Regions from separate parts of the Homo sapiens genome. Here all the other regions are linked to region 1. The links come from fine-mapping of genetic effects on gene expression. A gene starts in region 1. Each other region holds a variant in brackets. All regions are shown on one strand. Distances are from middle to middle.

The links. PIP is the estimated chance that this variant, and not a neighbour inherited with it, causes the effect.
Region 2: its variant is the best candidate, but not a certain one, in a credible set for the expression of PMFBP1 in putamen (GTEx, PIP 0.50).
Region 3: its variant is the best candidate, but not a certain one, in a credible set for the expression of PMFBP1 in prefrontal cortex (CommonMind, PIP 0.78).

The regions. Positions count from the first base shown.
Region 1 is chr16:72,169,154-72,179,505 of GRCh38, forward strand. PMFBP1 (polyamine modulated factor 1 binding protein 1) reads right to left here and starts at 3,002. Exons shown (of 21, transcript NM_031293.3): 1 at 2,901-3,002; 2 at 2,044-2,115. The coding sequence starts at 2,055.
Region 2 is chr16:71,710,608-71,721,357 of GRCh38, forward strand. It overlaps PHLPP2 (PH domain and leucine rich repeat protein phosphatase 2), which reads right to left. Exons shown (of 19, transcript NM_015020.3): 2 at 3,905-4,194. The coding sequence starts at 4,188. Among named protein-coding and RNA genes, the nearest start is that of PHLPP2, 8.7 kb to the right of the region's middle. The variant G/C (reference allele first, on the strand shown) is at 5,114.
Region 3 is chr16:72,764,021-72,774,770 of GRCh38, forward strand. The region is part of intron 3 of ZFHX3-AS1 (ZFHX3 antisense RNA 1); the gene reads left to right. Among named protein-coding and RNA genes, the nearest start is that of ZFHX3-AS1, 100 kb to the left of the region's middle. RefSeq lists an enhancer at 6,712-7,911. The variant A/G (reference allele first, on the strand shown) is at 5,848.

The DNA of each region.
Region 1 (10,352 bases):
GATATTATCTTATTTGTCTGAGGATGAGGACAAATCTTCAATAATCAATGGGAAACCACTTTTAACCACCACTAATATCACAACCATTCAATTTATGGTAAGAGTTATGCCTTAAGAATCATGAAACCTTAAAAACTAATATTGATTCAGGAATTCTTACATTTCACTTGTGTAATAGTAGAGTTTACAGTTATCTACAGTAATTTTAAACACTATTATTGATATTACTGACTTGATTCCCAAGTTGACTTTTCCATTTATAGAAATATTACAGTTTTTGCATTACTTATGAATGAAATTAATGGGTACTTATACAAGGTTTTGCCTGTGAACAAAAATTTAGAACCAATTATGTTCATATACTGAGGAGTGACTATATTTTATGGTGTTCTAAATTCTTTTAAAATTGGTGTATACTTATGTAACAAACCTGCACATTCTGCACATGTATCCCAGAACTTAAAGTATAATAAAAAAGATTTAAAAAATAAAGAAAACATTATGAAATGTAAGAAAGATAAACACACACACACACACACACACAGATTAACAAATTAAAAAAGATATCTGAGAGATCCCCTTATCAGCTGTGTATTCAAGCACAAGTTATTTAACTTCTGTGCCTACATTTCCCCATGTATAATATAGAGATAATTATGGCTTTCTTAAGGTTGTTGCAAGGATTAAATGCATTGGTAAATACAATGTACTTAGAACACTGTCTGACACATATCATGGAAGGCTAGATTAGTGTTTGCCATAAAAACAAAATTGGCACACCCTGTAAGTATACAGACTAGGATACATATGACATATGTTGGAGATCAGCCACCTATGGAACGTGGGCTGATTTTTATTGGCACCTGGGCAATTTTCACAGACTTTTTTCACTATCATATCATTTGAGAAATTATTCTACTAAGAAGGTAAGCTCCATGAGAGTAGAGATCTTTGTCTATTTTGTTCACTGCTTTATTCCCAGCTCCTAGAACAATGAACGCCTGGCATATTGAAGGTGCTCCAAAGATATAAATTAAATGAAGAAAGAGCCTTCTAGAAAATCCATACGAGATCCTTGTTCCCCACAGAACTGGTATGAAGTTCTGTATGGCTCCAGTAATGCAGCAGGAAAGGAGTGGACTGCCTGTTTCAGAATCTGCTCACCTCTTGGTAGGAGGTCTGTTAAAAAGCATATGGTACATGGGACAATCCTTTACTCATCAAAAAAGTCCCCTTAAATCCTTTCTGGAACAAGGTAGGGCATACATAAACATAGTTTGCTGCTGTTGTTGTTGTTTGAGACAGGGTCTTTGTCGCCCCGGCTGGAATGCACTGGTGTGATCATGGCTCACTGCAGCTTCAACCTCCCAGGCTCAAGTGATCCACTTGCCTCAGCCTCCTGAGTGGCTGGGACCAAAAGAGCGTGCCACCACACCTGGCTAATTTTTTTTATTTTTTGTAGAGACAGGGGTCTTACCATGTTGCCCAGGCTGGTCTTAAACTCTTGGGCTCAAGTGATCCTCCTGCCTCGGCCTCCCAAAGTGCTGGGATTACAGGTTTGAGTCACTGCGCCTGGCCCCATAAACACAGTTTGACCAAAATATTAAACTAATCAGACACTCCATTTTCATATCATTCCAGATAAAGAGAGAATGTTAGCAACAATAGTTAATATCGATTAAGTGCTTTCTACATGCACTACCTTTGCTAATCCTCATACCAAGTCTTTGGAATAGGTGATCATCATTCATATTTTCTAGATAAGGCAAAGGAAACTTAGAGTAGGTGATCACAATTCATATTTTCTAGATAAGGCAAAGGAAACTTAAAAGTAGGAAACAAACTCAGTATCATACTGCTGGTAGATATGGACCCAGACCCACCCAGCTCGAGTCTGGGCTCTTAAACACGATGCTCTGCTGCCCACCTCTGTCCATGATATTTTGTGATGCTTATTACTGGAATTTTGAATCATAAAACATGAAAAAAGTCCCTTGTAATGAATATTCAACTCCATGCATGTAGAGGAGTTAGGAGCCTTACCTCATCTTTCATTTCCTTGGCAGCTCTCAATTCTCCTTTAACCTTTAGTATTTTCTGAGCTTTGTTATAAACCTGAAAAAGTCCAAGTATTTAAGATGGAAAAAGTATAAATGAGCCTCTGCCCTTTAAAGATTTTCCCAGCTGGATCTATGCCCTCAGCAAGAGGTTTGGAAAATTTTCCTGAACTGTTAGCAATACCCACTTGCTTACCCATCTGTTTGTGTTTTTAAAAGGGTGTTAAAACCTCCAGATGGCAGGACCATGGTTTTACATCTTTTCCAGAAAACCACTACTTGGTGAACCAAACAGTTTCTGAATTTACCCTTCTTGGAAAGCAAAAAGTCTGAATCGAGTTTACTTTTTAGATTTCTATGTACTCTATGGCTCAGATATAGCTAATATTATGTACTTATTATGAACCAGACATGATGTGCATGACCTAACTTCATTCTCACATGAACCCTGGGAGGCAGGGACTACTACTATCCTCATTTAAAGATAAGGAAACTGAGGCCCAGAGAGGCTAAGTGACTTACCCAGGGTCACAGAGGCTCTCTTACTACTCTATGAGGAGCTTCCATTAATTTTGTAACTATTCATATGAAATATCTGATGATATGGTGTTTTTGAAGCATCAGCTTGCCATAATGTTGATGCTCATAAAGTTAGGAAACATGTGAAGTGCTGAGACTTATCTAGCTAGAAAGCCTCCCAGGAAACCAAAGATCTTTGCACATGTATGTGCATGTAAGTACAGGATGATGCATTTGAGGTCATAATGCACTGAGCTTATTAAAATCATCTCATTCATTCTGTTTTTAACCCTAAGAATAGAGGAATTTCCACCAGGAACTTACCTGCAGAATAGTTCAAGGAATGAGAAGCTATCAAAATACTCATCCTTTGTAACAAACCACATCCCCTATCCCTAATATAAGCCAAGAGGAAGAAAGAATGTTGGTGATATGTGGAATCTGGAATGTTTTATGGAGCTGAATTCTGATTTCCTGCATTGAGTACCCTCTGAAGTCTTCATGCACAGAGGTGCATCATGGAAATGGAGGTGTGGCTCAGGCTCACCTGGTGGGGACAGGCTAGGTGATGGTGTAGTAACAAACAACCCCCAAGTCTCAGTGGCTTACGACCGTGAAGGTTTATTTTTTACTCATGCTACATGTCCTTTATGAGTCAGCTGGGGCTCTGCTCCACATTGTCCTCAATATCCTCGTAGTCCTCAGCTGGTGAACTTCTATTATCTAGTATGTTGCCTGTTGCCATGGTAGCAGAAAGGGAACTTGGTGAATCACCTACTGGTTCTTAAAGCGGAAGTGAAACACTTTGCTTCTGCTCACATTTCATTAGCCAAAACAAGTCACATGGCCATGCCTAACTTCTTCCTTTACCTCCTCAAAGAAATATAGGCATATGTCAGAGAGATTGCGGGTTTGGTTTCTGACCACCAAAATAAAGCGAATATCACAATGAGACAAGTCACACAAATTTCTTGGTTTCTCAGTGCATAGAAAACCTATGATTACACTATACTGTGGTCTACTAAGCGTGCAATAGTATTATGTCTAAGAAAACAAGGTGCATAACTTAATTAAAAATACTTTGTTGCTAAAAAAATGCTGATGTGGACATAAGGGAGCACATGCTGTTGGAAAAATGGCGCCAATAGACTTGCTTGATGCAGGATTGCTACAAACCTTCAATTTGTTAAAAATGCAATATCTGTGAAGCACAGTAAAGTGAAGAGCAGTAACACGAGGTATGCCTGTACTGGCGAACTCACAAATGACTTCCACACTAGTCAAGCAAGATTAAAAATAGCGTGGCATAAAAGAACACTAAACAGGATTCTAGGCCACCAAGCTTCTAAACCTGGTTCAGCACCTCACTGGAGGAGTGGCCTTTGCAAAGGCCTTCATATCTCTGAGGCTTCATTTCTGCTTCTGTAAGCTAGGAAGCTATAATAAATGGCCTTTAGAAGTCTTTCCTAGCTTTAAAGTTCACTGATTCAGTGCTCTACCACGATGGACACCTTTCTTTAGGAGGAACTATGAACTCACCCAAGTATCATACAAAAAGTTGTAATGGAACAAATGTATCCTTGAGAATCATACTTCTTTGCAGGCAAGCCCACTGGATAGTCAGGAGATGATTCTGAAATCAAATGAAATCTTGTCCAAAAGACAGAGAAATGATTTTCTAGATTGTGATGGTTTCATCCGCTATGGAGTTACACAGCTGTAGTTGCAAGAGCCAAGAGCATTTCGAAGGAAAAGTAGAAGGCATAGGTTCTAACATTTGCATGAAAATATATTGAAATTTACTAAGTAAGGTAAGTAGGAAGAAAAAAAGAGAGCTGGAGTTTGTTCCATGAAGGAGATGTCAGAATCTTCAGTCATTAACAATAGCAGCAGGCAGTTTGGAAGGGCTTATGATGAAAAAACTGGAAGTGTTATATGATAAGTTTTTGATACATTTGACAGTAATGTTTGCCAGATGGATAGGGAAGAGTGTTTTGGGGGAGCCCCACAGGCTTTACGAAATGCCATGTGAACCTTCACAGTGCTGTCTGACTGAGGAGTATGGCTGGACAGATATTTTGTGGAGGAAGGGCTCATCCCAGAGGCAGGGACTCTCTACCAGATCCCCGGCTACTGACTCTCTGAAGCCAGGACTTTGCTCATGTCTCCCTCTTCTTGAACCCTTGTTCTTACATATTCTGTTCTGCCTCTTGCGTCTCTGTTGAGACCTTCATTTCTTCATGCCTTGTCTACTGCCATCTGCCCAGGCAACTCCTTTTTTGTATTCAAAACTCCTGCCATCTGCTTTTCAAAGTAGGACTTCTCTTGGTGACAGCTGTGCCTAAAGAAATGATTGTAGTGAAAACAAAAACTTGGTCAGAGCTTCTAGTGATGTTTTGTGCCTTCCCTCAGTCTACTATCAGAGCACCTTGCAGATTCCCAAGAAACACCTAACACCACACCTCAAATGGGTGACTAAGGTAGCAAGTATCAAGTCAGGTGTGCAAAAAGAGAAAGTAACTCTTTCTATTACTCAGTGTTTTTGTTTAGCCCCATTTTCACCAAATGGCAGAAAACACAATCTTAGTTATTTCTGAGAAAGCACCACGACTTTCAGGTTAAAAATGAATCAGTTCATGATTCCCTCACAGTTCATGATTCTCTCAACCTCTTTAAGGCGTCTCCAGAGTGTGCTTAAGATTTTGAGGTCCCAGTTTGGATCCTGGCACCAGGGGAAGCTTGTGGTCCATGGTCATGGGCATCTCTCCTAGCTAGAGTATGCCGAGGTGTCACTGTCCTGGTCAGTAGGCCACATGTACTAGTATTAGTCTGTTCTCACATTGTTATATGGAAATACCCGAAACTGGGTAATTTATAAAGAAAAGAGGTTTAATTGACTCATAGTTCTGCATGGCTGGGGAGGCCTCAGGAAACTTACAATCTTGGCAGACAGCACCTCTTCACAAGGTGGCAGGAGAGAGAATGAGTGCCAGCATGGCAAATGCCAGACACTTATAAAACCATCAGATCTCGTGAGAACTCATTCACTATCACGAGAACAGCATGGGGGAAAACACCCCATGATTCAATTACCTCCCACCAGCTCCCTATCACAACACATGGGGATTGTGGGATTACAATTCAAGATGACACAGCCAAACCATATCACCTTATATCCTGTGTCTTCCTCATCCTAAGGGCTTTGGGTCATCTGGCACTTCCTCATCCTTTGAAGATGCTCCTCCCTGTTCCCCATCAAGACACAAACACATGCACACACATACCACACATACATACACACACACCACATGAGAGTAGATTCAGACTGTCTCTTAGACTTGTCCTATCAGCATTCTATCTTTTACCTTGAAAGGTATTGAGAGAAAGAGGACAGAATGCTCACTTTCCTGGTTTTGATCAAAAGTCCCTCTGCCCTTCGATCACTAAACCTATCTGGGAATCTATTGTTTTCCCTCCCTTCTGCCCCATCTCATAGATCTCACCAGGGTCTAATTCTCCTGCTTATGTTCCAGTTACCCTATTCCTCCTCTTTCCTAACTCAAACAGTCTTTGTGTGGTTTTGGAGAGAGGAAGGAAAAGGGGCATAAGTGAACAAGTTCTCTGAAATGCAGTTTTAGCAGGCCAGGATGTGAAACACATCAGTTAGTACTTCACATACCACCTGCCCACATTGGGTTACACAAATGCCGTAATCACAGACTGCTAATTTTGACTCCCTCCCCAAGGAACTGGTAAGTGCCTGGGTATATGGTTGACTCCTGGCCTTACAGCAACCTTGTTGCTCCAAGGAACACCGACTATTCCTTTTCCTTCATGGCCTGGATGGAAGAATATCAAGGGTCTGTTTTTCCTAATCTAAAACATGTTTCCGGGTTTTCAGGAAAGAGATGCTTTTTTGGTTTAAAATTAAAGCTATCTTTGTGGGATAATACAAACTAACTCAGGCTTACCTATACTAAGCCATAAGTCTTTCCTTTACTTATGTTGGGCTTTAGATTTTTCTCCAATGTTCTACCTCCTACCAGTGAAAAAAGTGTGATGAATCTTAGAGCTCTTAATTATTGAAATGATGAGAGGGAGCTAAAGGTTTTCTCTATTTTTAAAAATGTGTGAGCCCCATGAACAGACAGGGATACTTATTGTATACTAATTATTTCTACCCAGAAAGTATGATTGGAGCCAATGTGCAGAGGCTTGGTGTGCAGAGGCTTGGCATGCAGAGAGTTCGCCTTTTTGAATCCAAACCCGGTTCTAAAGGAGAAAATCCCTGGTAGTGCAGAGCATAACTGGTAGGGGGAGATGGTATGAGGAGATGATGTTGGAGATGGTTTTGCCAGGGTTTGGGGTTCTGCAGAGTAACAGTGAATAGGAACCTGACACCAATGTCACTGACTGAGCCACAGTCCAATTCCAGGACTGGAGTTCTTCTGGAGAGAAAGTAGGGCTAGTTGGGTCTCTCCAGAAAGAGGCTTTTGAATGACAGAAGAAATTAGGGGCCAGGAGGAGCAGGAGAAGGAATCCAGGATTTATGAGACTCACTGTCCTAGGTGAAAATGTCTCCCCCTGGCTCTCTTCTTTGCTACCTTTCACAGAGGCTGTTTGTTGTCTGTTCCAACATCCATACTCTTTATTTTCCTTAGTAACAGATGCTCATTTTATTGGGATGTGCATGCACTCATCTAAAAGACTCTATCTCCTAGCCTCTCTTGCAGCTAGGTATGATTATGTGTCTAAGTTTTGGTCAATGAGACATAAAATGGAGTATTGTGGGGACTTCCATGAAATCTTCTGAAAGAGAAGTAGTGCACAGCTCTTTGTTCTTCCCACCTTTCTAATGGCTTGTAATGCTGACTTAATGCCTGGTGTTCCACCAGCCATCTGGAACATGAGGCCTTAATGCTATGGAACTATCATTGCCAGCCCTGGATAGAAGGAGCAATTTCTATCTTGCTTAAGTAATGATTTTGTTTTTAATTTTTCTGTTTCATACACCTGAATCTAATGCAAGCTGACACTGACAAAACACACTTATTTAAGTTACTCTCAGAGATCTCTCTCTACAGTTCACTCACCGTTTCTAGCACCTCCACTAGTTGCTTATACTCTACATTTTGGAACCCCTGTTTCATGGTGGACCAGCTCTTCAGCGATTCCACAGATATGTTTCTCAAATGCCCCTTCCCTTTCTCGACTTGCCTTGGTTTTCTCTTGAGATGTCAGTTCTTTGTGTTCACTTTCTCCTTCTCTATTTGCTGTATGGAGTAGAAACAGCCAGGGTCAGGGAGAGAGGAACATTTCAGCCTTCCTACTGCCACCACTATTACTCCCATGCCATTTTGGAAAATTTCCCATTTTGAAGTACACAGTCCACCTAATCTTTGTTGCCATTATCATTGACTGACATGGAGAAAATTCTCCCAATTGGTTGCTCTTTCTTTCTTTACGAGATATATTCTTTCTGCCTGTCCAAAGTCACACATCTTCAAGACCCAACCCAATTGCCATTTCTTTCAACTTCCCTAAACTACATGTCACATTAACTCTTGTATGGCAGCTACTATATGCCAGGCAGTGTTCTGAACATAAAATAACAGAGCTAATCCTCACAGCAGCCTTGCCAGGTGTGTACCCTTTCCCCCTTACAGCCCTTTTCCCATACCTCTTTTAACACAATGATCTGCCTTTATTATGGTTGTTTGTGATTTGCTTTGTCTCTCCCCAAAGGTAGAAGTGATCTATTCTGGTGAAAGAACAGGAACACACAGACCTTTTTGAAATAATTTTAGATTTCCAGAAAAGTTGCAAAAATAGTACACAGAGTTCCTGTATACCCTTTCCCCAGTTTCCCCAATATTAACATCTTACATGATGATACGATGATCAAAACTAAGAAATTAACATGGGTCCAAAACTATGGACAAAACTGCATACTTTGTTAGGATGTCACCAGTTTTTTCACTAATGTCCTTTTTCTGTTCTAGGATCTGATTCAGTATTCCACATTGCATTTAGTTGTTTTATATCTTTAGACTCCACTAATCTATGATAATTCCTCAGTCTTTCCTTGTCTTCCGTGACTTGGACACTTTTAAACAGTACTGGAAAGTTAATTCATAGAATGCCCCTCAATTTGAATTTGCCTGATTTTTTTTTCTTTTTGAGAAAGAGTCTTACTTTGTTGCCCAGGCTGGAGTGCAGTGGTGTGAACATGGCACACTGCAGCCTCGACTTCCCAGGCTCAAGCAATCCTCCCACCTCAGCCTCCCAAGTAGCTGGGACTACAGGCACTCACCACCAAGCCTGGCTAATTTTTGTATTTTTTTGTAGAGACAGGTTTTCACCATGTTGCCAAGGCTAGTCTCAAACTCCTGAGCTCAAGCGATCTGGCTGCTTCGGTCTCCCAAAGTGCCTGATGTTTCTCTGTGCTGAGATTGAGGCTATGCATTTTGGGCAAGTGTGTCATACACCTTCTTAGTGTATCATGTCAGGGATACATGATATCAATGCATCTTATCCCTGATGATGTTGACCTTGGTCACCTGGTTATGCTGGTGTCTACTGGGTTTATCTACTATAAAGTTATTATTTTTCCCCACTATAATTAATAAATATATTAAGGGAGATACTTTAAGAGTATACAAATATCCTGTTTTTCTTCAAACTGTCACCTGCTATCTTTAGCAAGGTGGATCTCACTTGCAATAATTGTTACAGTAGTATTCTAATGGGGGTCTTCTTTTTCCTTTATTTCTTCTACATTTATTCGCTGGAACTCTTCTGTAAGAAAGAGCTGCTCTTTCTCACCCATTTAATTAATGTATTGTTTACATCACTATGAACTCATGGATATCTATTATATGGGCTATAATCTAATACTGTTATTTATTTTGTTGCTCAAATGTTCCAGCTTTGGCCAATGGGCCAAAGGTTGGCTCCTGAGCCCTTTCAACAATACCCATTCTTAAGCACATTCTTACTTTTGGGTACGAGATGCTCCAGGTTCATCTTATACTTTTCCCTGCCTCAGCCACTTCTTCATGGAGTCAGGGCTCACATTTTGACTCAAGTTAACTTCTCTGAGTCTCAGTTTCCCCATTTGGAAACAACTGGAACAATAATACCTACCTTACAGGGTGGTTATGGGGATTAAATAAATAATGTAATGGGGTAATATTCAGACAATTTTAATGGGCATTTTTTCTTTGCCCTCTCCACCATAAACTCTCCAACATAGACTCTGCTTCTTGAGTTGCCCTGGGCTGGCACTATGCAACAAGACTCTTGTCTTAAGAAAAGATTTTCCAAATTCCTTTATCTTCTCTCCCCAACCCAGCCCTCCTCCACCTTCTCCCAGGTTTCAAAGGGCTCAACAAAAAAGTCAAGGACTTTTGAGGGCGATATTATCAACTGGCATTCTCAGAGGTGCCTGCTCTCCAGCAGGAGAAGGGTTAAATGCTTTGTGATAACTTCAGCTCTGAACTGCCAAGTCTCTTAGGTTCAGCTCAGCAATCAAACTGCATAACCTAATAGAGCCCCTGGTGCTATGGGAAACACAAGACACTGATTTATATTTTAATATCAGTAATTTCCACAAGAGCAACATTTCTGAGTGTCATTTTACAATTTCTGTCAAACGCCAGCTCAGTTTTTCTTAATTCTGTTTATTGTGTCTGAATTTGCAACCTCATCCGCAATGCAGATTCTTGACTCCCAGGAGAGAAGAACATTTCCATCTTTCTCTAGAGTGGGAGGGAT
Region 2 (10,750 bases), 460 kb before region 1:
TTTATTGCTATCTGAAGTACAGCACATCTCTTAGGAGCTTAATTGAAATGTACATTCTCAGGCTCCACCTAAACCTACTGAATCAGAATCTGTACTTGAACAAGCCCCACAGGTGGACAGTTTAAGCAGCACTACAAATATTAATTCATTTAATCTTCATATCATTTATAATTTAATCCTCATGACAACTCAACAATGTAAATATTATCATCTTCCATTTTACAGATTACTACACTGAAGCACAGAGCATTATATATCCTGCATAGTAACTGTCGAAGCCAGGATTTGAACCCATACACTCTCATTCCAGAATCCAATCTCTAAACCATTGCTGCATATTATGTCTCAATTTATAGTATATCCATACAGAGGAATATTCTGTAACTATTAAAACTGGTGTCTAAAGAATTTCTAATGACACCATGAAATTAAGATGATCCAGCCGGGCACGGTGGCTCATGCCTGTAATCCCAGCACTTTGGGAGGCCGAGGCGGGCAGATCACCTGAGGTCAGGAATTTGAGACTAGGCTGCCCAATATGGAGAAACCCCGTCTCTACTAAAAATACAGAAAATTAGCCAAGTGTGGTGGCTCATGCCTGTAATCCCAGCAACTCAGGAGGCTGAGGCAGGAGAATCGCTTGAACCCAGGAGGCAGAGGTTGCAGTGAGCCGAGATCGCACCACTGCACTCCAGCCTGGGCAACAAGAGTGAAACTCCGTCTCAAAAAAAAAAAAAGGAATTAAGATGATCCACTAAGTAGACAGGAGACAGGATATAAAACTGAATATGATGTGAGCCCAAATACATAAATATTTAAAAGTATGTGGGATTGAAAAAAGATCTGGGTAAAAATAATGTTACTATGGGGAGGCAATACAGAAGACAGACGTAGTATAAGAATGCCAGGATTCAAACTCCAGCTCTACCACTTAGTAGCCGATTGCACTTAGATGAGATGCTTAACCCTGTGAAACTTTAATTTCCTCATTTATAAAATGGGGACAGCGTCTACCTCACAAGATGGTTGTGAGGATTAAATGAGGTAATTTACATAAAGCATAAGCATTGATTATCATTTCTCTTTATGCTTTTTCATTTTCCAAAATTTCTTCGGTGAACATACTTCAGTAATCAGCAAAAAGTTCCTTAAAAAGATAATGCCTTAGATTGTCAACTATCTGACAAAGGGCTTTTACGCAGAAAATACTCCCTTGATTAGATAATGTAAAACTGATCATAAACAAGTAACAGCTGAGTAACAGATCTAAAAACAATCTTGAAATAAGCATGATTAAATAGTGAAACTGAGGAAGTGTCACTGCTGCGCCAGTTCCTGTCACAGCTGGCCTTTACTCAGAAAGAAGTCCATCATCTACCTTGAATGATTCAGGCATTCCAACTGCAGGGCAGTACCTGCCTGTCCTTGAGCAGGTTACTGAATCTCTCTCAAGGCCTCAATCTTCCTCATCTAAAAGCAACGATACTACCTCCCTTGGAGTTATTGTGAGGATTTAATGAGAAAATGTGCATAAAGCACTAAGCATACCAACACATGAAAGCACTTAATGTTAGCTGAAATCTACCATCATCATCATCCTTAGCTGGATAAAAGTTATTGAGCTCCTACTCCAGCAATGAAAATATATTCATTCTTTGAAACCACAGTTCAATAGTGCTTTCATTATTTTCTAATCAATTATACCTTCAAAGGGCTATTTCATTATAAATGATGAAGGCTACAGGGCACATAAGTAAATAAACACATAAGTAAATAAACTATCACATTCGGATTCTTAACTAATTACACAACTACTAGTAGCAAGCCATTCCAGTGGGGTTTTCTTCGTATTTCTAATATCTTTGTATACATAAACATTACTATACAAATGAATACACCATATACTTAAATAAGTTAATCAATCACTACCAGATATAATATAGGTCAAGGCTTTCCACCTGATAAAATTAGATCAGAATCAGTGTTAAGACTTAGAAAAGCCTAAGGATCACCCAGTCTGATCCTTTCGTTTTACAAATGGATTTAGCAAATGTAGTAAACTGGTGAACAAGGAAAACATTCAAATGCTAATCTACTTTTTCAGGAATTAGTCCAAATCCTAAAAGGAACACATAGTAGATCTCAGTTTAGACTTTAAAAATGACATCAAATTTTAGCTCAGCTAAAGGTGTTACTATTATTACCACACTTTTAAGGTGTAAGTGGGAGCTTCCTTTTCACTTTCAACAGTATTAAATCCACAGCTTTGAATTCTGTTTCAAGACACTTTTTCAATGACAGGAAATGCAGAAAGGAGAAAAATCATGGTCAGGCATTTAAAGACCTCTTATTTGACAACTAATTCAAAGAACTAACAGCGATTTTCTTTAAAAAGCTGAATCAAAGAGTTCACATGCATAGTATAAGACTATTATAAAAATATTTTCTTCACATTTGCATAAAAATTTTTCAACACACAAATGGCTTTTAAACCCATGAAAATATGCTCATTAAGAGAAATGAAAATTAAAATAACAAAACAACAAAATTCCTCTCACATTTGCAGAAATCTAAGTCACTTGGCCTAGAAAAAGATTTGTCGTTGGAATGCTGACTTTATGATTCTCTAATTTTAAAACTTTTAACAATCATTTCTATTTAAGAGCAAGTCTGAGCTCATTCATGTGTATGTGCCTCTATTTATACATAAAATTTACTACTAACATATTTTTGAGAAAGTAAGGAGAAAATAGATATACTTTCATATTTCTGATGGAAATATAACCTCTATGAAGAAGAATTTGACAGTAACTATGAAAATTAACAATACTAATATCCTTTGACCCAGCAGTTCCACTTCTAGGAGTTTATCATACAGACTCTCACATATGAGAGATACCACAGGTACATGGATACTCACTGCAGCACTTCTTGTAGTAGCAAAAAACTGGTAACAACTTGAATGTCCATTAATAGAAGACTGGCTAAAATTATAGTAGACTCAAAATTGAACACTACTGCAGCCATTAAATAAGTGACAACTATATAAATTTTAACATGGAAAGATCTCTAAAAGATATTAAGTCAATAATGTGTTGCATACAGCACCATGAGTTTTAAAATTTATAATATATGTAGAGACACATACTCACGCATGGGCACATATATGCTTATAATTTAACAGAATATTCCTAGCGTGCATAAAGAAGCTGGTAATAACTATCAAGAACAGGCCTGGGTAGTTGGGGAATGAGGGACAGAAAAGTACTTCTCACTCTATACCCTTTTTAAAAATTTCATTCTATTTACACTTTTCAAAAAAAAAACAACAACTTTTCTTTTTTTTTTTTTTGAGACAGTGTCTTGCTGTCACCCAGGCTGCAGTGCAGTGGCATGATCTCGGCTCACCGCAACCTTGGTCTCCCAGGTTCAAGAGATTCTCATATCTCAGCCTCCTGACTAGCTGGGATTACAGGTGCGCACTACCATGCCTGGCTAATTTTTATATTTTTAGTAGCAGCAGGGTTTCGCCATGTTGACCAGGCTGGTCTCGAACTCCTGACCTCAAGTGATACACCCACCTCAGCCTCCCCAAGTGCTGGGATTATAGGCATAAGCCACTGTGCCCAGCCAAAAAAATTTAACTTTTAAAATACTTATTTTTAAATTTAGATATCTGACCTATGGTGTATTCCAAATCAAAGAACTCTCAAATTTTCCTTGGTCAATAGTTTTTAAATTCAAGATTCATAAAGTCAGCCTTCCAAGGACAAATCTTGAAGCCCAGTGAGTCCGTAATCAACATCAGTTCCGGCAGAATTAAAATCCTAAAGTCCAGTTCTAAGCAGAAACACATTATTATTTATATTACGGTAGAATTAGAGTGGTAAAACTGAGACCTCACCTGACCAGGTCTCCATGAAGCTGTAAATAAAGACTTTCTCTTCCCTCTCCAGCACATATTTCTGATGCTGGTGTCTCTACAGTGCAAAGGACGAGATGTAAGTCAGAGGAAGAGGAGGAGGAGGAAGAGGAAGAGGAGGTGGTGGTGGTTGTAGTGGCAGTGGTAGTGTCTGCTCCATAAAGGTAAACACAGCCTCTCTTTACATCTTCTCTTAGCCAGTCTCTTTCTCGAGAACCAAACCTACTTCTCCTATTCAAACAATTTCTGCTCCCATTGCGTTTCATATTTCTCTAAAAAATATCAAGAGAAAGAAATCGTTAGCTAGAACATCTGACTGAATTAGACATTTCAGTCCTCACCCCACCTCTCTCTACTTTATATTCCCCAACATTCTGCTCAAGTATCCCCTCCTTTTGTGGAGCACTTCACATCTATCATGCTCATTCGTAATAACTCAGATAACTTAATTTTCTTTACTGCTGTCTGTGTTTCCATCCATCATCTTCGTTGACCTCTCTTTTCCTTGTGTTTTCAGAAACGTGTCAAGAATAACGAAACAGCGGGTTGCAGTGGCTCAGGCCTGTAATCCCAGCACTTTGGGGGGCCAAGGTAAGAGGACTGCTTGAGGCCAGGAGTTCAAGACTAGCCTAGGTAAGATGGCAACATCCCATCTCTACAAAAGAAATTTTTTTTTATATATTAGCCAGGCATGGTGGCACACGCCTGTAGTCCCAGCTACTTGAGGGTGGAGAACAGATTGAGTTGGAGAACAGATTGAACCCGGGAGATTGAGGTTGCAGTGAGCCGTGATTGTGCCACTGCAACCCTATCTGGGTGACAGAGCGAGACCTTGTCTCTCAAAAATAGAAATTTTAATATTTTGCCTGGGCACAGTGGCTCACATCTGTAATCCCAGCACTTTGGGAGGCCAAGGCTGGCGGATCACCTGAGGTCAGGAATTCGAGACCAGCCTGGCCAGCATGGTGAAACCCTATCTCTACTAAAAAATACAAAAAAATTAGCCAGCTGTGGTGGCACACGCCTGTAATCCTAGCTACCTGGGAGGCAGAGGTGTGAAGATTGCTTGAACCTGGGAGGCAGAGGTTTCAGTGAGCCAAGACAGCGCCACTGCACTCCGGCCTGGGTGACAGAGCAAGACTCCATCTCAAAAAAAAAGAAACTTTAGGCTGGGCAAGGTGGCTCACACCT[G/C]TAATCCCAACACTTTAGGAGGCCCAGGTGAGGGATCATTTGAGGTCAAGAATTCGAGACCAGCTTGGCCAACATGGTAAAGCCCCATCTCCACTAAAAATACAAAAAAAAAAAAAAAACAAAAAATTAGCCGAGTGTGGTGGCACGTGCCTGTAATCCCAGCTACTTGGGAGGCTGAGGTAGGAGAATCACTTGAACCCAGGAGGCAGAGATTGCAGTGAGCCGAGATTGTGCCACCGCACTCCAGTCTGGGCAACAGAGACTCTGTCTCAAAAAAAAAAAAAAAACTTTAATCTATAAACCATACACAGTATTGTCTTATCTAATTTAAACTTCATCTAATCCTTAACAATACTTATGTTTCACCCTGTAATTTTATTTAGTTCAATATTGCTTTAGAGATACAACTGTGTTAATATACCCAGTTCATTCATTTGAATAATATTCCCTTATACAAATACACCAAACTTTATCCACTCTCCTGTTGACAGCATTCAGTTTGCTTCCAATTTTTCACTGCTAGAAACAATCCAGCAATAAACATTTTTGTACATGTCTCCTTATGAAAATGTGTGTTTCTCTAGGGTCCTAACCCTTTGCTTTACATCCCAAATAAGCCAAGTGTAGTATCAACACAATACTGCACAAATATACTTTCCATTCCTGCCCTGTTTCAAAAAAAATTAATGTCGCATTTGATAATTTAGGTATGTGAAATTCATATATTGCCAAGTTATCTCAAAGCAAAAACAATTTCTACAGGTAATATAACAAGTTTCTAAAGATCAGCATTTGCCTGCTCTATTTTTATGATGGGCTATTTCTGTTCTTTTTGATAAAAAAGAAATTTCCACTGACATTTCCGCAGCCATACCTCTCCAGCTTCGTTCCCTACTACTGCCCTTTACTCCATGTTTCAATCACCTCCAACTACCTGCAGCTCTCCAAACACACCAAGTACACCACAATTCTGTGGCCTGTCTGAAATGGCTTTCTCCACCTCATCCATATGACAAGTTATTCTTCAAAATCCTACTCAGGCATCACCTTCTCTATGGAGCCTTCCATATCTCCTATCCTTATTCTCCCTAGACAGAATTAATGACTACCAGACATTTTTACTAGACAGAATTAATGAATTATCTAGACAGAATTAAGAACTTCTTCACCTTGAGTACACCTCTAATACTACATCGATGACAATGGGTTTTATTTATTTATTTGATATTTCTTCCTCTTCTCCATTTCTAGCATGTTAACACCTGGGTGACACAGAAGTGTTTGTAGAACTCAGCTGACATCACAGAAACCTATTCCCAATCTGTACCTTAGTCCAATTAGCTCTGGCAAGAAGCTGAACAAACTTGGGGGGGAAAATTCCCATTTCTATGGAGAACCCTACATCTTTGCAGCAGCTGCAAAGTGAATGGGAGTAAATAAAATACTTTCAGTAGTATTCCTCATTGGAAAATAGAAATACCTATAAATACAGCAAATACTATTTTTATAATTACTAAGATTAAATATTTGAGGGTAATACATTTCTAAAGATGTCAGAGAAAGAGGAATGAAAAGTTAGCAGGTATTTCTATGTGGGAAAAAAGAAAAACAAGAGTAAGAATGGCTTTATTGTTTAAATTTAGAACTCAGGAAAACTGATCATTTTGCAGATCTTGGGGATTTAGGCATTGCTATTCAAAACCATGAGGATTATTGAATCTAACTTTAGAGAAGTAGGATAAATCCCTGCTACAAGTGAGAACTAGTTTTCTCATCAAATGCATTTTCTCAAAGCTGAACATCTCAGAATGAAAGGGCTTTCAAGGGCTTACTGCATAAACATAGGGACCATCGTATTTGTACTAAGTAATTTTAACCACTGAATAGTCAAATACTGCTAATAGTTAAATATTTAGTAGGTAAATACTGTTAAATTTTAAATACTCCTCATTTTTTAATCTTTGGGAAAGATTAACTGGACCATCTGAAAACAGTATTCCATATAGTATAGCAATATTTATACAAAGCTCCGCATTCTCTACTCAGTGGAGAAAAAAGAGTAAGCAGACACTGTTTCACACAAACAAAAAAGTCGTCTTCAGAACAACTTTCTAAGGTCAAATAATGGTCCACTGACCTTCTAAATCTTAGAAAAGTCAAGGAAGACTCCAGGAAGTTTTGTTTGTTTTGAGACACGATCTCGCTCTGTCACCCAGCCTGGACTACAGTGGCGTGATCATAGCCCACGGCAGCTTCGAACTCCTGACCTCAAGTGATCCTAAAGCCTCAGCCTTCAGAGTAGCTGGGACTACATGCACATGCCACCACACCCAGCTAATTTTTTGTATGTTTTTAAGAGATGGAGTCTTGCTATGTTGCCCAGGCTGGTCTTGAATTTCTGGACTCAAGCAATCCTCCTGCTTGGGCCTTCCAAAGTGCTGGGATTACAAGCATGAGCCACCACACCAGGCCTGATTTTTCTTCTGTGAGGATTTTTAACAGTCATTTTTAGTGCATATATATTTACCTTAGATTATAAATTCCTTAAGGAACTTTACATTATCAAAACATATATGCGGTCGGGCGCAGTGGCTCACACCTGTAATCCCAGCACTTTGGGAGGCCAAGGCAGGCGGATCACAAGGTCAGGAGTTCGAGACCAGCCTGGCCAACATAGTGAAACCCCGTCTCTACTAAAAATACAAAAACATTAGCTGGGCGTGGTGGTGCACGCCTGAAATCCCAAATACTTGGGAGGCTGAGGCAAGGAAATCACTTGAACCTGGGAGGCGGAGGCCACAGTGAGCCGAGATTGCGCCACTGCAATCCAGCCTGGGTGACAGTGCAAGACTCTATCTCAAAAAAAAAAAAAACAAAACACATGCCTGTAATCCCAGCACTTCAGGAGGCCAAGGAGGGAGGATCACTTGAGGTCAGGGGTTCAAGACCAGCCTGGGCAACATAGTGAAACCGCGTCTCAAAAAAAATTAAAATAAAATAAAGATTAAAACAACAACAACAAAATATACACGCTGTTGGTCATCATTTACCTCAAAGGATCTATCTCCTGTCTACATGATACATTCCGCCCTAAGAAGATAAACTGCTAAGTTACAACTTCAGTATATATCATTCTCTTAAACCTGACCGATGGGCACTTAAAAGGCCTGGATATTAAGCAAAGCAAAGGCTTACAGCAACAATCTAGATGGACTGTTTAGCTGTTATTAGCCACTGCTGAATTGCCTAGTGCTTCCTTCTTCTCAAGAATGTCTTGCTCCACTGCTTAACACATCAGTTAACTGCTGGAAAAACCTTCCTAGGAGCCAGGACTGCAGATGACACGGTCCTCTGAGGTGCTTTCAACTTTTAGAATCACCATTCTACTGGAATTGCTAGGTTGAGAAAATTATTTTCCCCTTACTCTTATAGAATTGTTATCACAAATTTATTTGAAAGGGAACACAATGACAATTACCTCTTACATCAAACAAGTATACAAAGAGCGTATTTTAGATTTAAAGATCTTTCTAGCCGGGCGCAGTGGCTCATGCCTGTAATCCCAGCACTTTGGGAGGCTGAGGCGGGCAGGATCACCTGAGGTCAGGAGCTCGAGACCAGCCTGGCCAACGTAGCAAAACCCCGTCTCTATTAAAAATACAGAAGAATTACCCGGGGGTGGTGGCACGCATGCCTGTAATCCCAGCTACCCTGGAGGCTGAGGCATGAGAATCGCTTGAACACAGTAGGTGGAGACTGCAGTGAGCGGAGATCACGCCACTGTACTCCAGCGTGGGCTACACAATGAGGCTATCTCTCTAAAAAGTATCTTTTTTAATTTTTTTGGCATTAATTGTTTATACATACTTTGCTCAACACCCAAAACTATTCTTGAAAAAAAAAAAAGAATCTCATGACACACACCGACATTAGTTGTAACTTCGTATCTTCTATAAGCTATGGGCCTGGGTGACACAAGGAGACTCTGTCTTTAAAAAAAAAAAAAATCTTTCTAGAAGGCAAAAGTCTTGAGGGTAAGCCATGAATTAAATACCCACTGCTTCAATTTTACACTTTTGTTTGTTTGTTTTTTTGGAGACAGCATCTCCCTCTGTTGCCCAGGCTGGAGTGCCGTGGCACGATCTCGGCTCACCGCAACCTCCACCGCCCGGGTTCAAGCGATTTTCCTGCCTCAGGCTCCTGAGTAGCTGGGATTACAGGTGCACAACACCATGCCCAGCTAATTTTTTTTTTTTTTTTTTTTTTTTGAGACGGAGTGTCGCTGTTGTCCAGGCTGCAGTGCAGTGGCACAATCTCGGCTCACTGCAGGCTCCGCCCCCCGGGGTTCATGCCATTCTCCTGCCTCAGCCTCCCGAGTAGCTGGGACTACAGGCGCCCACCACCTCGCCTGGCTAATTTTTTGTATTTTTAGTAGAGACGGGGTTTCACTGTGTTAGCCAGGATGGTCTCGATCTCCTGACCTCGTGATCCACCAGCCTCGGCCTCCCAAAGTGCTGGGATTACAGGCGTGAGCCACCGCGCCTGGCCACGCCCAGCTAATTTTTAAAAATATTTTTAGCAGAGACGGGGTTTCACTATGTTGGCCAGGCTGGTCTTGAACTCTTGGCCTCAAATGATCCACCCGCCTCGGCCTCCCAAAGTGTTGGGATTATAGTAGTTAGCCACTGTGCCCAGCCCAGTTTTATACTTTTAACTCTAAAAGTGTTCCATGAGGGCAATGATCAGTTCAAAGGTGATATACTATTACACACTCACATACAATAATAAGATATACATGGTATAAACAGGGTCTGGTAAAGTAACTCTCCATATTCAGTTAGTTCTGCAAGAATGTGAAATACGGCCGGGTGCGGTGGCTCATGCCTGTAATCCCAGCACTTTGGCAGGCTGAGGCAGGCGGATCACCTGAGGCCAGGACTTCAACACCAGCCTGACCAACATAGAGAAACCCTGTCTCTACTAAAAATACAAAATTAGCCAGGCGTAGTGGCACATGCCTGTAATCCCAGCTACACGAGAGGCTGAGGCAGGAGAATCGCTTGAACCCGGGAGGCGGTGAGCCAAGATCGTGCCATTGCACTCCAGCATGGGCAACAAGAGCGAAACTCCACCTCGGAAAAAAAAACAAAAGACGAAAAAAAAAAAAACAATGTGAAATACTCTTAGGTAGAAGATGTTTCTGCATTCAAAACTTTAAAACAATATAGACTCATATCTGGGAATACACACGTTATTAAATATTGTGAAAGCGGTGGGGAGGGATGGGATGAGATAGAGAAAGAATATGTCAGCGCTTTAAAAATGTTTTGGGGCTGGGTGCGGTGGCTCATGCCTGTAATCCCAGCACTTTGGGATGCCGAGGAGGGACAGCCTTTAAGCCCAGGAGTTGAAGGCCAGCCTAGGCAACAAGGTAAGACCTCATCTCTACTAAAAAAACAAAACAAACAAACAAAAAAAAAAACGTGCCTATGATCCCAGCTACTCAGGAAGCTAAGGCAGGAGGATCACTTGAGCCATGATCGCGCCACTGCATTCTAGCCTGGGCAAGAGAGAGGCTCTGCCTCAAAAAAATAATAACAATAATAACGTTTTGGGCTGGGTGCAGTGGCTCATGCC
Region 3 (10,750 bases), 600 kb after region 1:
CGTGTTAAGAAAACCCTTTCCAGTTGGCCTTCTTCCAAGACAGGGTGCAGCTGGGCCGAAGGGCCACATGTTGAAGTTATTAATATGCCTATGCCCTTCTCCCCCACTGAGTTCACTGATCAAAGGCTCTGCCAGAGCAGCAGTGGATAGCCTCGCATAATGGGAACTGAAATTTTACTTAAGAAACCAGCTTTGCCAAAACACACTACCTTTCTAAGTGAAACATTCCATGCACATATTAACCTGATTACAGAAAGGAAGGGGGATCTTTTTTCCTTCAGTACCCTGCTAATAATTTTCTGTCAAGTCTGATTTGGCTTTAGCTGCACTCCAAGTTCTTGTGATGTGCCGCGTTCACCAGTAAACTAAAAACAGAAGGTGCTGCATAAACTCTGAGACAGGATACTCTGTCCATGAATGCAGACCCTGCAGAATTCAGTTCCCTGCCAACAAGGAAGGCCAGTGACTTTTCCAGTCTCTGACAACCAGCAGCCTGCCTCTGATTCGCACAGTCGGTGAAGGAAACATATGGAGAAAATGGTGGAAATAATTAAGGGTTCTTGGAGTTAGCAGAAGCATTGACTCATTACACGGGGCCCCTGCCTCAAAAGGGAGTAAACCATTGTGCTTATTAGAGAAAAGAATGAATGGTAACAAAGCATTTTAAAGTCCCAATCAGTTCCAGCCCCAGGTTGAAGGGCTGGTTAGGTAAGAAAAAAGGGAAACAACCCAGATTTAAAGGAAGCGATATCATTTTGCTCTGCTTGATAAATAGGAAAAGGTAGTTTGTGGTTTATTTTACTATATCCCAGGATAATTTGGTTCCTGCACAGCTGACAAAATTTTGTTCTCAGATATGATATCAAAGATCTACATATTATGTAGTTGCCCAAATAGAGGGCCAGTCCATGAAGAGTCTGAATAAAATTGTTGCTTCTCTTTCAGATGTGTCACAGGGCAGTCCTTGTTAGAGGATAGTGAGATGTGTTGAATGGTGTCTTTGGGATCCTCAAGCACAGATTGTAAACTCTGCTTCAAGTTTTACAGTGTCTCAGATTCAAATCTTCTTTGCCTGCAATGATAAACAGAGACACAGCCTTCTCTGAAAACAAATATATCTCATAAGGATGTCCTCCACTTCTCCAGTCCTCATCCCGCACAGCCTATAAGGTGCTGAGCAATTGATAGATCCTAGAAAAGTCCTGAAGTGCTTCAAGCAAACAAAAGGTAAATAAAAGGCAGCAACAGTCCAAGTCAGTCATTTCTAGGCATTTGCTTGAGGCCAGGAGTCTGAGACTGGCCTGGGCAACATAGCAAGACACTGTCTGCTAAATAAGTAAATAAATAAATAAGCAAGCAAGTCGGGTATGGCGGTGGTGCGTGTAGTTCTAGCTACTCAGAAGGCTGAAGCGGGAGGGTTGCTTGAGCCTAGGAGATCGAGGTTGCAGTGAGCTGTGATTGCACCACTGCACTCCAACCTGGGTGACAGAGTGAGACCTTGTCTCTAAACACACACACACACACACACACACACACACACACACATGCGTGCACGCGTGCGCAGAATTTGAGGTTTTTATCTGAAGAAAGGGAACTGTTAGGTAGATATTGGTAGCAAAACTGTCACATAATTAGATACGATATTTCATTCTTAGAACATCTGATGGCCTGGGTTTTTTTTTTTTTTTAATATTTTCTCTCATTATAAGAACTATCACATTAATACAAAGTGGATGTCCTAGATGTCTCAGACTATATGTCTTTACTGGGTTTGGTGTTCCTGTTGACATCCTTTTCTTTGGCTGTCTTTCTAGAATCCTGAAAGACTTGCTGCTTTTCAGATTGAAATATCTCATATTAATGCCAAGATTAACATTCTGTTCTTCTTAGGCAATCAGAAATCGTATTCTAGATTCACACTGTTCATAATTTCTCAAAGTTATGGTAGAGAAGACAGGAACAAGGTCGTTACTTACAAAAATACCCTTGGCCTTTGAATCTCGCCTGTCTGTAGATTCACTCTTTCATGGCATTTAATAAAGAGCATGGCTTTAAAGTGCTGAGTCCAAACCTAAAATTGAATAAATTAATCTGATCTTGAGTGCTTACCTTTATAGAGTTTAGTTGTGCTGGTTATATTTAGATATCAAAATGAAGGAAATAGTGTGTAAATTCCTGCTAGGAAATCACCATTTCTTGTATGTTAATATAGCCAGTCTTTATACCAAATGGAACTTTAAACTAAATAAAAACAAAACACCAAACTATGACTTAGATCATTCTTGAAAAAGAAATATAAGAAGTGAGGTTTCCGAAAATATTTCATTTCCTTCAGTAAATGTCCTTCATTTATCTTTATCATACTATGTTATGGTGTGTTTTACCAAAAGAACATTTCAGCAGATGAAGAAAAAAAAGGCTTGAGCAGCATGACTACCCTCCTTGAGCTTTTGACTACGGAAGTTCATAGAAGAGGAAAAGATGTCCTGTGGTTCCCTCAGTGTATTATAAGGAAGGGCATTTATAATCAGTCACTGGAAGTGGGATCTTAACCCACCCCCATTCCTCCCATACACAAGAGAGGGAGGAAAGGAGAGAGAAAGGAAAGCAAGCGAGCAAGCCTGAGGAGTGTGTACATGTAGTCCTCATTCAAAAAAGGATTTGAGATAGCAAGCTGAGGATGAAGCAAGAGAATAGAACGGGATGACCTAGTGGTGGAAACAACAGCTATACATAATGGGCCTTTAGGAAAGGGGATTAAGTGAAGTATTCTCAGCTGAATCAGTTGTTAACTATTGCATAGAATTTTCTTTCTTTCATATTCCTAACATTAATACATTACTAAAATTTTACTACATTACTAAACACATTACTAAATAGGAGCTTCATTCTGATTGTCTCGATTTTTCCTCCTGTGAGTATTGTCATCTAGAAAAGCTTTTGTGAGTACTTAAAAAGCCCACAGTAATTCACGTACAGCAATCCAAAACAACAAGTAATTTTTAGAGAATGCTTAGGACTGGTTTTTTTGTTGTTGTTGTTTATGTTTTAAGACAGGGTCTTGCTGTATCACTCAGCCTGGAGTGCAGTGGCATGTTCCTAGCTCACTGCAGCCTCAAACTCCTGGCCTCAAGCCATCCTCCTATCTCAGCCTCCTGAGTAGCTGGGACTACTTTCATACACCGCCACGCCCAGCTAATTTTTAAATTTTCTGTAGAGATAGGGTCTTACTGTGTTGTCCAGGCTGCTCTTGAACTCCTGTCTCAAGCAATCCTCCCTCCTTGGGCTCCCAAAGCACTGGGATTATAGGCATTAGCCACAGTGCCATAAGACTGTTTGGGCTGGCTACCTCATGATTCTGGGCATTTGCTTTAGTAGGTTTGCTTTGCCATTTTATTTAAGTGATATGAGTAGGAGTAAATCTCCAGGTTTCTGGGAGAGAAATGCCTTTATCTCCAATAAACATCAGGATGAAACCCAAAGTAGATCAATGGCATACTTTTAAGCCTTGTCAAATAACCTGTTGGGTTTTGTTGTTCGCAAGTAACTTTTCATCACTAGTGTATAAAACTTTACTATGGCATCACTGTACCAAACCAGTTAAAACCAGGGATGTAACCAGCTACAAAACAGCCCAAGGCAATAAGCTGTGGTGTCAGGAAACAACATTTATATTTAAATGTCTTCTTCACTAAAATAAACCTGAGATGGACCAGTTTTCTTGGCCCACTGTAATATTAGGCACATCTGGCATAACATGTAATTCTTGTTTTGTTATTTTTGAAATAACATTTAAAACACATTTTGTAAAAGTAATATACTTGGTATAAAGTTCAAACAGTAAAAAGGGAATACAATACAAATTAAGTCTCTCTCCCATCCCTGATGCTCCCAATTCCTCAAAAGTGACAGTTGTTACTTGTGAGTCCCTCTTATATTCAATATGTGTGCTTGCTTGCACACGCATGCTCTCTCTCATACACTCCCACATAGATACAGTATATATACATATAAAATAAATGTTAGCATACTATGTAACCTGTTCTGCATGTTTTATTTTTTAAAATCCATTTTATTGTAGAAAATACACAAATATAGAAAAGGGCTTAAGACTTAAATGTACCGTTATTAACAATGTACTTGGAAGAGCAGAAGCTTTGAATTTCAAGTCTAATTTGTCAGTTTTCCTTCTGTGATATTTACTTGCTGTGACTAAGCCAAGAATCTGTGATAACCTAAGGTCACAAAGATTTTCTATCTTTTCTCCTTATCCATGTGTGAAAAAAATATAAAACTGGACCTCTATGTAGCATGACTTTAAGGCAGACTGTACACCCAAAATCCCTTTTAGCAAAATAATAAAGTTTTTAGAAGATAATATAGAGGAATATTTTCATGACCTTGGGGTAGGGGGGATTTCTTTAAAAAAAAAAAATCATTTATGAGGCCAGGCATGGTGGCTCATGCCTGTAATCCCAGCACTTTAGGAGGCCAAGGCAGGCAGATCACCTGAGCTTGGGAGTTTGGGACTAGCATGGCCAACATGGTAAAACCTCGTCTCTACTAAAAATACAAAATATTAGCCAGGCATAGTGGTACATGACTGTAGTCTCAGCTACTTGGAAGGCTGAGGCGCCAGAATTGTTTGAACTTGGGAGTTGGAGACTGCAGTGAGCGGAGATCATACCATTGCATTCCAGCCTGGTTGACAGCGTAAGACTCTTGTCTCAAAAAAAAAAAAAAATCATTTATGAGAGCAGGAAATGCTGATAAATTTGACTTTACTAGGAACTTCGTCAGCATATCAAAAGGCATTACGAAGAACACAAAATGCAAGCCACAGAGTAAGAGGAAGTATCTGCAACATGTATAACTAGCAAAGCACTAGCATTCAGAATATACAAAGAACTCCTACATTAGAGAAACAAATTCAAATCACAATGAGATACCAGTACAAACCTTTTAGCAGTACTATAATTTACAAAATTGACAATATCACTCTAGTGGTATTCAAAGCAACTGGAACTTTCATGCATTGTTAGTGGGAGTGTAAAATGGTATCATCATTTTAGAAAACATTTAGGTAATGTATTATCAATTGCTGCATAATAAGTTATATATATTTAGCAGCTTAAAACAACACACATTTATTATCTCACAGTTTGTATGTGTCAGGAATCTAGATGCAGCTTCACTGAGTCCCCTGCCTCAAGGACTCTATCAAAGCCTCAATCAAGGTGTCAGTCACACTTGGGGTCTCACCTGAAGCTCAAACAGGGAAGGATCCTCTTTCAAGGTCATGTGGTTGTTGGTAGGATTCAGTTCCTTGCCTCTATCATTGAAAGCCTCAGTTCATTGCTGCCTATTGGTTGCCCTCATTTTCTTGCCACTGGACTGTGCCATGTGGCAGCTTAATTCATCAGAGCCAAGAAGGATGAGAAGAAAGTCTACTAGCAAGAGAGAAGTTACAAACTTATGTAATGCAGCCATGGGAGTGACACCCCATCACCTTTGATGTATTTTATTGGTTAGAAGCAAGTTACAGGTTCCACCCAGACTCAAGACAAAGGTATTACACAAGGATACACATACCAGGAGGCTAAGATAATTTGGGGCTATTTTAGAGTCTGTCCACCACAGGTAGCAATCTTATAAAGTTATGTGTTATCTGGTTATGTGTTACCATTTACCATATGATCCCACATCTAGGCATTTATTCAAGAGAAATGAAAATATATGTTCATACAAAGATCTATACATGGATGTTTATAACAACTTTATTAAAAATTGCCCCAAACTGGAAATAACCCAAATATTCATAATCTGATGAACAGATAGTTAAATCAT[A/G]GCATAGCCATACAATGGAACACTATTTTGCAATAAGAAGGAGGTACTGATACATGTAACAACATAGATGAATCTCCAAAGTCTTATGCTTAGTGAAAAAAGCCAGACACAAAAGGCTACATACTATATAATTCTGTTTATATTATATCCTATAAAAGGCATAGCTACGGGGAAAGAACACAGATTAAGATTAGTCATTGCCTAGGCTGGGGATTGGAAGGGCATTAACAACAAAGGAGGGAACATTATGGTGGTAATGGAAACAATTTAGTATTTATTTTTATATTTACTGGTGATTACACAGTAAAATATGTGTGATTACACACACACATATTTGTCAAAACTCATAGAACTGTGTACCTGAAAAGGATGATTTTTTTCTGTATGTTGATTATACCTAAATAAATATGACTTAAGCAAGTAAAAACATTAGTACTCAAGGATTTTTGTTGTTGTTGTTAAAGACAATAGAGTTTGAAGTTTGGCTAATGGATATATTCTATTTTGCTAATGAATTTTTGAAAATTAAAATATATTCATCTTTTTTCTGAATGTTGTTTTCCCCTCTATGGCAAAAATGCCTTCTCAATTTATTGACCATGTATTGAACTCATGGAATATTCGCCTCTCATTTGCCTTGTAATTTTGAGTATTAAATACAAATTCATAAATGCCTAAGACTTAAAACCATCATTATTTACATATAAAGGCTAATGATAATAATTATTCTCACTTCCTGGACAAAACAAGAACTTTAAAAGATTTTTAACTTCATTTACCCTCTCCTAATCTAAATGCTAATGTTGTGCATTTTATTTCTATATAGTTTTTTTCAAGTTACACAGTTATTGTTTCATACTATATGTATTCATTTAGATTTGCCTATGTACAGTTTCAATATTTTTAAAATGTTCATGTCTTTTTTGTATCAGATCTTCTGTCTAGGACCATTTTCCTTCTAATTGAAGTACATTCTTTAATCAGTCTACAAGTGGCAAACTCTGTTTTTGTTCATTTAAAAATGTGTTTATTTTGCCTTTATTCTAAAATTATCCTTTTCTGGGTATAGGATTCTATGTTGGTAGTTATTTTATTAGAGCATATTGAAGATATTATTCTACTGTCCTCTGGCTTCCATTGTTTGTGTTGCATAACCAATTGACTATCTAAAAGCTATTTCTTTGAAGGTAACAAGTCTGCTTTCTATGCCTACTTTGGCCTCAGTTTTCTGCATCCTCACTATGATATGTATACTTCTTTTGTTTTCTTTTTTGTAAAATTTTTCTTTTTTTGAAGATACAATCTTGCTCTGTTGCCCAGGCTGGAGTGCAGTGGCAGGATCTCAGCTCACTGCAACCTCCGCCCCCTAGGTTCTTCTGCCTCAGCTTCCTTATTAGTAGCTGGGATTACAGGCATGTGCTAACATGCCTGGCTAATTTCTGTATTTTCAGTAGAGACGGGGTTTTGCCATGTTGGCCAGGCTGGTCTCGAACTCCTGGCCTATATAATTATTTTCTTTACTTCCCTGTTCTTCTTCTACTTTCCATTGTACTTTGAATCTCTGGATTTGTCTCTTTCAATATTTCTAGAAAATTCTCAGCTGTTATCTCTTCAAATACTGGCTCTTTACCATTGTCTTTCTCTTCTCCATCTGGGACACTGACTGAATATATGTCAGACCCTCTCACCATGTGCTTTATATATCTTACCCTTTCATCTGTATTTTCTCTTTTTCTCTCTATGTTCTGCATTTTAGGTAAATTCTTCTGATCTGTTTTCTGATTCATTAATTATTTAACTATGCCCGGTCCACTGTTAAATTCATTGAGTCCTTAATTTTAGTTATTGTATTTTTGTCATTTGAATGTTACTTTCTTGTCCAGTGACTACATCCCTAAGCTCTTTTTAAAATTTCTTCAGGTATATTCCGCATAGTCATTTCATTCTCTGCATTTGATCATTTGAACATTTAAGTCATTAAGGCTCTATTTCTGTTGTCTCCTGTTTCTCACTCATGGAGTCTTAATTTCCTTGTGTTTTATTTATCTTTGTGAGCTGATACTGAGAGGTGAAGCCAACTGGACTTCCTGGGTTGAGTGGGGACTTGGAGAACTTTTCTGCCTAGCTAAAGGATTGTAAACGCACCAATCAGCGCTCTGTGTCTAGCTAAAGAATTGTAAACGCACCAGTCAGCACTCTGTATCTAGCTAAAGGATTGTAAATGCACCAATCAGCACTGTAAAAATGCACCAATCAGCGCTCTGTGTCATCTAAAGGATTGTAAACACAGCAATCAGCACTCTGTAAAATGGACCAATCAGCACTCTGTAAAATGGACCAATCAGCAGGACATGGGCAGGGCCAAATAAGAGAATAAAAGCTGGCCACCTAAGCCAGCAGTGGCAACCCACTCGGGTCCCCTTCCACCCTGTGGAAGCTTTGTTCTTTTGCTCTTCACAATAAATCTTGCTGCTGCTCACTCTTTGGGTCCACACTACGTTTATGAGCTGTAACACTCACCTCGAGGGTCTGTGGCTTCATTCCTGAAGTCAGCGAAACCACGAACCCACTGGGAGGAACAAACAACTCCGGACGCACCACCTTTAAGAGCTGTAACACTCACTGCGAGGGTCTGCGGCTTCATTCCTGAAGTCAGTGAGACCACGACCCCACCGGAAGGAAGAAATTCTGAACATCTGAACATCTGAAGGAACAAATTCTGGACACACCATCTTTAAGAACTATAACACTCAACACGAGAGTCCTTGGCTTCATTCTTGAAGTCAGCAAGACCAAGAACCCACCAAAAGGAATAAATTCCAGACACAATACTGTGTTTTTGAAAATTATTTGTAGAGATAATTTTAGGTATATAATGAATGTACCTTCTGCTAGTGAAGCTTTATATTTGCTGTGTCAGGTAACTGTGGCTACTATCAGTCCAGAAAACCAATTTTAAATCTTGAGATTCCACGGATTTCCTGGTGAATTGGAACTCAGACTGTCAATCTGGATGAGGCCTGTTCTATGTATGGATTACCCGTTGAGGCTACCTCAAGATTGTAGCCTCTTTTGGTCCTAGTTTATTGTGTAAGGTGTCTCCTGTTAGAATCCTCTTTTGTAGGGGCCCGGGACTTTAAATTTCGTACTTTTTCCTTTAATGATGCTTTCTTAATATTATGAAATTTCTAGTCATGATCAAATTTCTAATTGTCTTAAATATCGTAACTTTAAAAAATATATAGTTTGAATCAGGATCCAATTACATTTACATTGCCATTGTTTTTAAAAATAAGGTTTTTAGGTATATTTTAATGCATAAGCTTTTTCCTTCCAATGCCTTCATTCTCATTGCAATTTATTTGAAAAAGATATCTCTTTGTTTAATATAGAGAGTTTCCCACAGTCTACTTTTGGTTTATTGCATCCCTGTGCTATAGTTTAATGTGTTCCTCTATTCTCTATATAACTTTTGTATTAGTTTTCTAGGGCTGCCAAAACAAATATCATAGACTGGAAGAATTAACAGAAGTTTATTTCTTCACAATTCTGGAAGCTGGAAGTCCACAATCAAGATGTTGGCCCTTCTGAAGGCCTCTCTTCTTGGCTTGTAGATGGCTGTCGTCTTGTGGTGTCTTCATGTAGTCTTATCCCTGGGCCTGTCTGTGTCCCTATCTCTTCTTCTTATAAGTCATGTTGTATTAGGGCCCACTTCAATAAGCTCATTTAAGTTTACCTCTTTAAATACCCTAGCTCCAAATACAGTCACATTCCTAGGACTTCAACATCTGAATTTGGGGTGGGGAGTGAGGGGAGACACAATTCAGCCTGTAACACCTTAGGAATTCATAGTTGGATCTAGAGACAAGATCTTGGTCTGTTGCCCAGGCTGGAGTACAGTAGCCCAATCACGGCTCACTGTAGCCTTGCCCCCGCCCCCACACCTGGCTCAAATGATCGCCCCACCTTAGCCCCCCAAGTAGCTTGGACTTCAGGTGCATGCCGCCATTCCTGGCTACCTAATAAAAAGATTCGTTGAAACAAGGTCTTGCTATGTGGTCCAGACTGGTCTGAAACTCCTGGGCTCAAGCAATCCTCTCACCTTGGCCTCCCAAAGTGCTGGGATTACAGGTATGAGCCACTGTGCCTGGCTAATGTTATACTTTTCCATAGATAGTGACATGATGTTTGGTTGCTGCTTTTTTATAACATTGTGTGTAGAACAGTAGGGAGTAAGGTAAATAGTATTTATGCCCAGATAGGGACATGCTTTTTGTTTGTTAGGAGATTGAGTCAATAAATCAAGAAGAGTAACCTCAGTATACCATAGACTTCACATCCTCTAATTGTGGGCTGCTGCTGCCCTGTGTTTCGGGTGGAGGCTTGGGTATCATACAGTGGGTTTTTCTCACTCAGCGTTAGGTTCATGGTAGGAGCAGGAAGTGGGTATTCTTGGTGATCCAGGTCTAGCATCCATCTTAGGCAGGCCCTGGCAAAAGGGCTTGGCAGTGGGCTTTCTCCGTGTTCCTGCTCCTCCTCTCCATAGCAGCAAACGCTACTCTGAGTTGTTGGTGTTGAGCAAGAGTTTTCCCAAAAGGACTTTCTCCATGTTCCTGCTCCTCCTCCCCATAGCAGCAAACTCTACTCTGAGTTGTTGGTGTTGGGCAAGAGTTTTCTGTTTCTCCCTTAGTGGTAGCAGATATCTGATGCGTATTGGTGTAGGATCCTGTACCCATGACCTTTTCCTGCTCCTGCCCCTGCCCTAGGGGTGTAGAGTTTTTTCCTTCTACCCTCTTTCCTCGCCACAAAGTGTCTTTTGCCTGTGTCCATGGGGCAGTAGGGTTAGCTATCCCTTCCTCCAGTGCTTTTGCTTTGTAAGGGAGAAGGTCCTCTGAAACAGGCT